3 separate regions of the Homo sapiens genome follow, and regions 2 and 3 are each linked to region 1. Evidence: fine-mapped expression QTL. A gene starts in region 1. Each other region holds a variant in brackets. All regions are shown on one strand. Distances are between the middles of the regions. Region 1 holds the start of LINC03033 (long intergenic non-protein coding RNA 3033). Region 2 overlaps LINC03033 (long intergenic non-protein coding RNA 3033). Region 3 holds the start of PRKCH-AS2 (PRKCH antisense RNA 2).

Region 1 (2,762 bases):
TGACAATGGGGTTTTATCTCTTCAATGCACTGGAGACAAAATCCCTGCTTTTAAAAACAACACTCATACAGAGCCAAGGATGTCCCAGAGTGAACAGTCCTAACCCTTTCTCAGCCTGCCTAAGAGCTCGTTGGTTTCAGAAGGATGAGCCAAGGACTGCTACTTAGAGACTACTGTCTAGGTCAACCCAACTGGCATAAGTAAAGCACCTACTGTTTATAGTAGGAGGCTGCAAGATAACAGGAGATGCAGACTATTGAAGGCTACTGATCTATCTGTGTAGACAGGCAAGAATAAAACAACTGGAGAAGAAATCCAGGATTACACAAAAAGAAGAGCGTGATGGTATGGTAGACTACTCCAGAACAGTGAATTTCCCCTGCATTAAGGATGAGATCCCTATGAATTGGGATCATTCAGGAAGTCTTCTTGGAGAAGAAAAGTTTGAGCATATGGGGAAAAAAAGTTGGATTGGCAAAGAGCTGAGCTGTCAGTAGCTGGGTCCTTAGTAAGTAGGCTGCATGGAGCTGGGAGTTATGCTAAAGGAGTTGTAATTTGGGATGCCTCTAATTAACCATTTTGGGAAAAATATAATAAATCCCTTTGTAGCATCTATAATAAACTGCCCAATATCTATGTGGTGGGGAAAAAGTTTTATTCTACGTTTCACGTGGATGGTGATAACACTAGGTAATCTCAGCATCTTTCTTATTCTCTTGCTAATCCAGGATTCTAAGTAATAATCACTTTGTTCTACAACCTGAATCTAGCCCTTGTACTGTGCAGTTTTTTTCTACACTTATTTTTCCTGTTGTCTGAATCAATCTCCATGGAAGCATAAGTTTTACTGAGTTTCAACCAGCTGTGTCCACCGAGGTAAAGATGGTAAAAATAAAAGGCACAGGGCATATATACCACAGCAGCAGTTACTTCCCACAAGGAACCAGAGATTGGAAGTGAAGCTAAAACATTTTCAGCTACGATAGCATCTCTTTCAAGGTGAGCCATTTCCCCAGGGAGAGTTTCCAGCTCTTAGCAAAGGCAGAACAATAAAACATCAAGGATGTCTTTCTAAGGCTGCAAACAGAATAGCCAATACCTTGAAGCTGATCTGCTTCAGAGTCCTTTAAAAGCCAGGACAGCAACAAAGTGCCCACATTACATTTTCTACAAGCTTGCTAAGCATCTCTTTTCCTAAACCACAAAACCCGAGACATTTCTACAGAACAGGCAGAAAGGGAAGTCCTGGGAGATCAGGGCCCTGTCTCAGCAGGCATCACTCCAGCCTGTCTTTTCCCGAGTGGTTTTCTGCACTTCTCTTCCATCTTTTCCCCTCTGTCCCACACTGGAAGTCACTAGTCTGTGCCCTCCTTACCTCCCATGGTTTCTGCACCTTCATTTCCAAAGGCAAGTGAAAACAGTGCCAGGCTGCGCACATGGGTTACTCCAGGGACTTCTCTTCCCGTTTCCCCTAAAGCATTTGACAGTTAGATCTTGGAACTGAGTCCAGCAGCACTGAGGTCAGAGAGATGGCTAAAGCTAAAAGCAAACTGGATGCTGTTCAGGAGGTTCTCCTTTGTCATTTTTATCTCCAAATAGAAGACCTCTGTTTTCCCAGAAGATTAAATAGTAGAAAAGAAGTAGCCCAAGGTGGGTGACTCTGCAAACAGGTGGGTGAGGTCTCTAGTTGAGTGAGGGGGTGTCTGTGGGTTGTGGGTTCTTCTTATGAGCAGAGCTTGGAGGAATTTGTTCTATTTGTTGTGGTTTTCCCAGGGGGAAGTCGGGGGTGGCTGGGACTCTAATGATCATTATCAGAAGACTTTGGATTAGGCCTCTGAAACTTTAAGATGTGGATCCTCTCGCAATCATGTTAAAATGCAGATCTCCTTTCAATAGGTCTGGGACAGAGCCTGGCTTTTCTATAAAGCTTCTGGTGATGGGATGTCGCTGGTTCTCAGCCACAATTTGAGTAGCAAGAGGTTAGCTTTTCTACTTACTGCCTTCATATCCCCAGTTGGGCTATGTCGTTTTATCAAAACAATGTGGTAAGAGTGAGCGCCAATTACTAGCCTGTTGAATCATCCATTGTTAGAGCTGTTTCTTTGAGGTACATTTAAGAGGCCCCTCCCTGTGGTTCCCCATTGCACAAGAAGCCCATTTGCCAGGCAATACCTTGGGCAAGCAAGCCACTGTGCAAAATTGCATTGGCTCTTCCTGCTGCCAGCCAGGCGGCTGCTGGTTGACGTTGGAGTTGTACAGTTTATGTGATAGTGATGACAGCGCTGGCTCTGAAGGGTACTGAAGATTTTGAAGGGGTACTTCGCTGCAGCAGCTTCACCTCTCACTTTTGTTTACCCACCCCCGAGGCTTGTGGGAGAGAAGGATCAGGCAGAGCTCTGCACGTGCCATGCCAGGGGTGGAGGAATTATATTTTTATTTTTTGCTTTCTCTGCTACAGGACATACCATGCCTTTTACAGATATTTATAGGACAATTTCCCTCCTGAGAGTGCCCAAGCATGGGGGATGGTGAGGAAGATGACTGAAGGAGAAAGCAGGAAAAGGGGGTGTCTGCATGTATGAGGATTGGAAGGTGGGGAAAACCCTTCGTGTTTGGTTCAGCCTTCAAGAAAGAGGAGGGGTTGACTAGATTACAGATGTTAAACCAGGGGTCTGTGGTTCAAACCAGCAACTCTCTGCCCTTGTAAGCTGTATCTGGCTGGTGTGTTAATTTGTCTAGGGTAAGAGCCCCTAGGTTTCAAC
Region 2 (2,762 bases), 83 kb before region 1:
CCTCCTGGGTTCAAGCGATTCTCCTGCCTCAGCCTCTGGTGTAGCTGGATTACAGGTGCCTGCCACCATACCCGGCTAATTTTTGTATTTTTAGTAGAGACGGGGTTTCACCATGTTGGTCAGGCTGGTCTCGAACTCCTGACCTCAGGTGATCCGCCTGCCTCAGCCTCCCAAAGTGCTGGGATTACAGGCATGAGCCACTGCCCCCGGCCAAATGCTGCTTTTTCTGATAGGTGTTCCCTGACTGACCACAGTCAGTAAAATAGCTCCTCCATTCATTCATTCATTCATTCATTCATTTATTCATTCTGGGTGAACTTCCATTGCAGTCCATCTATTTGGCTTCCTTCCTTGTCTTACCCTGTTTTTTTCTGAATGGCAGGATTCTCTTTGCTATACAGCCAATCAAAAAATATAATTTATTCTTCTCCTGTTAGTTAAATAATATTGTTTGGTTTATAGGTAGGGTTAATTTTTATTTAAAAAACATGTAGGTGTAAAAATTACAGAAGAATATACAAAACACTTTAACCATTTAATCTTCAGGTAGTAGGAGTTGTGGTGATTTTTATTTCCTTTGTTATACTTTTCTGAATTGACTGATTTTATTCCCAGTAAATTCAGTTTAAGATGACAAAATCTCTGTTTTTTGTAGTTATAAACTTGTACTAGTCATAAACATGTGCTAGCTCCAAGTGAAAAAATTAGTGCTGTTCAACATAAATTCTCAGGATATTATACTCGAGAGCCAGTAGGAATAAGGGCAAAGAAACAAGCGTTAAGGCAAGTAAATTAGATGATGAGAGAAAACCTAGTCTACAAAGTTACCATTTAAATCTTGAACTCCGGACAGCTATTTCATAAATGGTTTTCTTTGGTCATACAAGGTGACCATGGGTCATATAAGGTAATGTTAAAATCACAAGTCAGGGTTTCTGTCTGACTGCTGGTGGGTCAGATATCTTCCCCTCCCATGAAAGAAAAGTCATTCTTTAGTGTTAATAATCTTGTCATGTCTGTAGAAATGAGCACTTCCTCTTCCACCACCAAGCTCCCCACCCCAAATTCTGCTTGGGACATTATACTGCAGGCTAATGATCTAAACAAAATTAAGATTCATTAAATTAACAATTCCATTGTTCCTAATTAAGATTTTACTTTGCACTTAAGATATTGAACCATACATAGCCCTGTGTATATTTTTAATGCAAGCAAATATTAATGAAGCAAATTTGTCATTTTCATTTGTGTATTTTGGACAAAGGTTTGTTTATACTCAGTGAAATGATAATTTTT[TC/C]TGGTAATTTCTCCTTTTCCCAGCAAAGAATGCTTAATCTCCTTTCTGAAAATGATTTGATTTGGGCAGCAAATCCTACGTTGAGAATTCTTCCCAGATCTCAAGTTATATAACTGAACAGATGGTATTCGCATGGCTTTGACAGGTCAGGCTGCTATCACAGGACATCCTGAGGAAGCAGCTCGGAAGCCTTCCCGAGGAGAGTGGGAAGATCCCGTGAGCAAGCAGGCACGTGTGGCTGTGGGATTGGGTGAAGAACTGCACTCTGACTCAGCTTCCCATCTTCATGGCCCAGGAGCAAATTCCTCAGGATCCTGAAAGAGGTACAAATAATCCTGCAGAAACTAGTGGTACATTTGATTGAATCAGAAAAATAAACAAATCTTTCCTGTGGGAGAAAACAAAGTCTCTCAGGGAATGTGATACAGGAAGAGTGATTTGGTTTGTGGTCATGGTTGAAGTGCCACAGGTAGATGGACAGTGAATTGGATGTGTTCTAATTGTACCTTGGGCTTGCAGCATGATGGGGCAAAAATGGGAAAAATATCCCTGTCTTCACAGAGTTTGCAGCTTATTGGGAGAGAAAAAAATCACTCAGTCAATAAATACATGAACAAACACACACATGAGAGTGATAAGTGCCAAGGAGAAAAAAAAATGCTGAGAAGGGGGATACAGAGATATGTGTATAAAATTTTAGATAGAAATCCTCTTTTAAAAAAGATGTCATTTGAGTAAAGAAAGACCTGAAGGAAATGAGAGAGAAAACCATGTATATAGCAGGGAAAGAGAACTCCAGTAAGCAGAAACAGCCAATGCAAACGCCCTGAGCCAGGGAAATGCCCGGAGTGTCCAGGGACCCATAAAAATCCCCATGCGGCTAACGCAGAGCACACTGGGGAAGCAGTGTGCAAGATGAGGTTTGAAAGCCAGTGTGAGGTCAGATCATACAGAGTCTTGAAGTTCACAGCCTGGAATTGCCTTTTCATCTAAGTGAGATGGAAAACAGGAGGGTCTGGAGCAGACAAATGACATAATTTGGATTATTGTTTACTGGGATCGCTCTTTGTAGGAAATAGGTTGTGGGGCAGCAAGGGCAGAGGCAAGGGGCAGGGCAGTGAGGGGCAGGGAAGAAGCATCTAGAAGGCTATTGAGATAATTCAGGCAAGAGAGGAAGGTGGATTGGACCAGGATGGTGGCAGTCTAAGCAGCAAGAAGTGGGTAAATTCTGGATATATTTTGAAGGTAGAATCAACAGGTCTGGTTAATGGATTAGATGCATTGTATGAGAAAAAAAAAGAGAAGTTTAGGGTTATTCCAAAGTTTGGGGGCTACACAACTGGAAGGATGGAGTAGATCTGAGAAGCTTAATAAGAAGGAGGAGAATGTGGGAAGGGCAGGTTTGGAGGATATCAGGACATCTGTTTGGAATATATTATGTTTGAGATGTTGAGTGGGCAATTGA
Region 3 (2,762 bases), 26 kb after region 1:
GTCAGAGCAGCTGCCACTTCAGGCACTTACAGTGGTCACCCAGGATTCAGGAGATGCATATTATAAGTAACTCAGTTCTGTAAGAGCTAGGAGTTAGTTCACACTGCTTGGGCTCTCACTAAGTAAGCCTGTGCAATGCAGGCAGGAAGGGAGAAAATGCTTACAAAAAAGAAATGAGTAGATTCTTGCCTTAGGAAAGTCAACGGGATACAATTCCTGATGGAAGAGCAGTTGCTATTCTAAGAGCTAATTAACAAGAAACAATGCTGCAAAAAACTTGGGAGACAGGACGGCAGAACACACCCAGATGGCCTGTGGGAAATTCCCAGGCCTGCCAATGATGTGAGAGAGGACATCTTGTGAATGGGTGGGTACAGCCTGTTCTTCTGGGCAAGACAAACAGTGCAGGACTCTATATGCCAGGGTGGCTGAAGCCCCAGTGTCCAAGAGGCTTGCCCATTCCTCCCTGCCCCTGGCACTGAACCCAAGCTTCCATGGGGCACTGTGGAAGAGGCCTTGCCTGACGACAAGTAGACCAAACACGACCGTCCGTCCTCTAAAAACTGCACCCTTGGAATTGGGGACAGGCAGAATAACCCTTTCACTAGCTTGATACTTAGCCTCTTGGGGTTCTGATAAATCCTTTTGAATAACCAAGCAGTTTTGTTTTTAATACCTTGGCCTGAGCCCTTTAGATGCAGCCATCCTCAACTTACAAAAAAAACAAACCAAAAGAAAAAACAAAACACACACACACACAAACAAACTTTGATTCAATTGACAAAGGTTTTCAAGGTGTCTACTACATGTAAGGCAGCACACTAGGGGTTTCTTGGGGATACGCAGATGACAAAGACAGTGTCTCTTCATCCAGGAGCTAATCAAGAGAAGGGGGAAGAATCAAGCAAACTTCATAATACACAGCCGGATGAAATGAAAAGAGACTTAGATCAAGTGCTGTGAGAGCTTGGAAGAGGCACGGGGCAAATAACACTGGGGCTGGTGGTGGGAAGGCAAGTGACAGCCTCGTGGAAGAGGTGGCATTTGACCAGAGATGAGGACGAACAGAATTAACATAGTAGGCATGAAGGAAGAAAATGCGCCTGAGGACACAGCCAGCACAAATGCAGAGGCATACAAGTGCCTGGTACAGCTGGCATGCAGGGATGGCTGAGGAACTGCGGGGG[C/GC]AGCCGGTGGGATCCATCCGAGGTGAGTGATGAGAGCTGCACGGCAATTTAGGGGATGACACTAGCCACAGCGTGATGAATAAATCTTAAATGCAGAGGTAGCGCCTGGTGGTGAGCAGTTAGAGGCTGAGACAATAGCTGAGAACACATGACAAGTTCAGCAACTAGGAGAGTTTCTAGTTAATTGGAAGGAAGAGTTGGAAGCACATTCTAGAGGGCCGTGGAAGAATAAACACAATCCACTAACTGCCGGGAATGGGAGTGAAGAGTCCAAGATCACAGGGTCCTCCCTGGCTGCCTGATGGGGCAGTGGTGTTGAGTAACAGAAATGGAACAAAAGAGGGGCAAGAGATTATTCTTTGTAGCATGAGTATTAGTAGCAGTGTTAGTAGTAGTAGTATTTTTGTTAGTGGAACAAAGACAAAAATAGCTCACACTTACTGAGATCCTACAGTCTGCCAAATCTGGGAGGCTGATGGGCTCCGCTTTGCATTGGAGGTGTGTGGGCACCCACATGCAGATGAATTCTAGGGTAAATCTGGGGTGCAGGCCAGGGCTGGCCATCTAACGCTCAGAGACATTGAAATTTGAGTAACCACTGAAGCTGGGAGGGCAGGTTAGATTGTGGAAAGTGACAGAGACAGACTAGAACTGATACCAGCCCTAGGTCTCAGACACATTTTATTTGGCCTACCTAGTGTGTTTTGAAATAATTTTAATTACTTCTCAAATATTTAAACGCTAGGAAATGTCACATCACATGAAAAGTCAGGTTTTCCAACTTCTCGTGGAAAATGAGATACTCGGGAACACTGGGCCTGCACTCCTCTCATAGAAACGGCCTGGAGTTGAGCAGGGGCTTCTGCTTTTCATGGGGCACCAGATGCCCAGTCAGTCACATGCCCCACCACTCCCTATCACCTCCCACCTGGCTGGTATCACTCACGGACTTTCATGGCTCCTGACCCCTGGTGTAGGGTGAGAAGCAGCCAGAGTGGCAGCTGGAGGATGCCATGAAGAGGCCAGAGGAGGATGAATACCATGAAACAGAAACCAGGACCGGGAGAAGGAGGGTCCGGGGTGATACTAAGGGGGTAGAAGCTTTGTGTGTTGTGGTGGTGGTGGGGTGGCCCTTCTACCACTACCCCCGTCCAGTGATGTGGAGATGAGGAGTTAAGGGAACATTTAACATTAGTCCCAGGCCTGAAATCTTTCACAGTTCACGTTGGTGCAGATGGTGTGGAGTTGGAGGTGGATAGCTTGCCATCCTAGGCTGGGCACAGGCCTTTCCCTAAACTCTCTGTTCCTACTGCTGTGAATGGTGACAGCATAATCCTTTTGCAGAAAACTTTCATTATTTGCTTATGTCCCTAATGGGACCCAAATGCCAGTAAGTTAACAATTGTGCTCCTCGGGGCCATCACTTTCATCCACATTTAAGGTCACACTGAAAAGTTGCCTCACCTCAGCTGACTTTCTCCCTGACTGTGATCCAAGAGGGAAAGTCGGCCAAAGAGGAAAATAATGTGACTTCATGAAATATTCTGCACACATTTACTAAAGGAAGCAGAATGT

What was found.
Region 2: its variant is fine-mapped to the expression of LINC03033 in whole blood (TOPMed, PIP 0.96).
Region 3: its variant is fine-mapped to the expression of LINC03033 in blood mononuclear cells (TOPMed, PIP above 0.99). The same link has a PIP of 0.9 or more in whole blood.

The regions. Positions count from the first base shown.
Region 1 is chr14:61,569,374-61,572,135 of GRCh38, reverse strand. LINC03033 (long intergenic non-protein coding RNA 3033) reads right to left here and starts at 1,596. Exons shown (of 3, transcript NR_039985.1): 1 at 1,376-1,596. It overlaps LINC01303 (long intergenic non-protein coding RNA 1303), which reads left to right and starts at 1,483. Exons shown (of 5, transcript NR_110416.1): 1 at 1,483-1,650; 2 at 2,459-2,592. RefSeq lists a silencer at 2,306-2,498.
Region 2 is chr14:61,652,472-61,655,233 of GRCh38, reverse strand. It overlaps LINC03033 (long intergenic non-protein coding RNA 3033), which reads right to left. Exons shown (of 3, transcript NR_039985.1): 3 at 521-1,611. Among named protein-coding and RNA genes, the nearest start is that of HIF1A, 42 kb to the left of the region's middle. The variant TC/C (reference allele first, on the strand shown) is at 1,297.
Region 3 is chr14:61,543,541-61,546,302 of GRCh38, reverse strand. All of the region lies in intron 12 of PRKCH (protein kinase C eta), which reads right to left. PRKCH-AS2 (PRKCH antisense RNA 2) reads left to right here and starts at 819. Exons shown (of 3, transcript NR_188139.1): 1 at 819-1,209. The variant C/GC (reference allele first, on the strand shown) is at 1,188.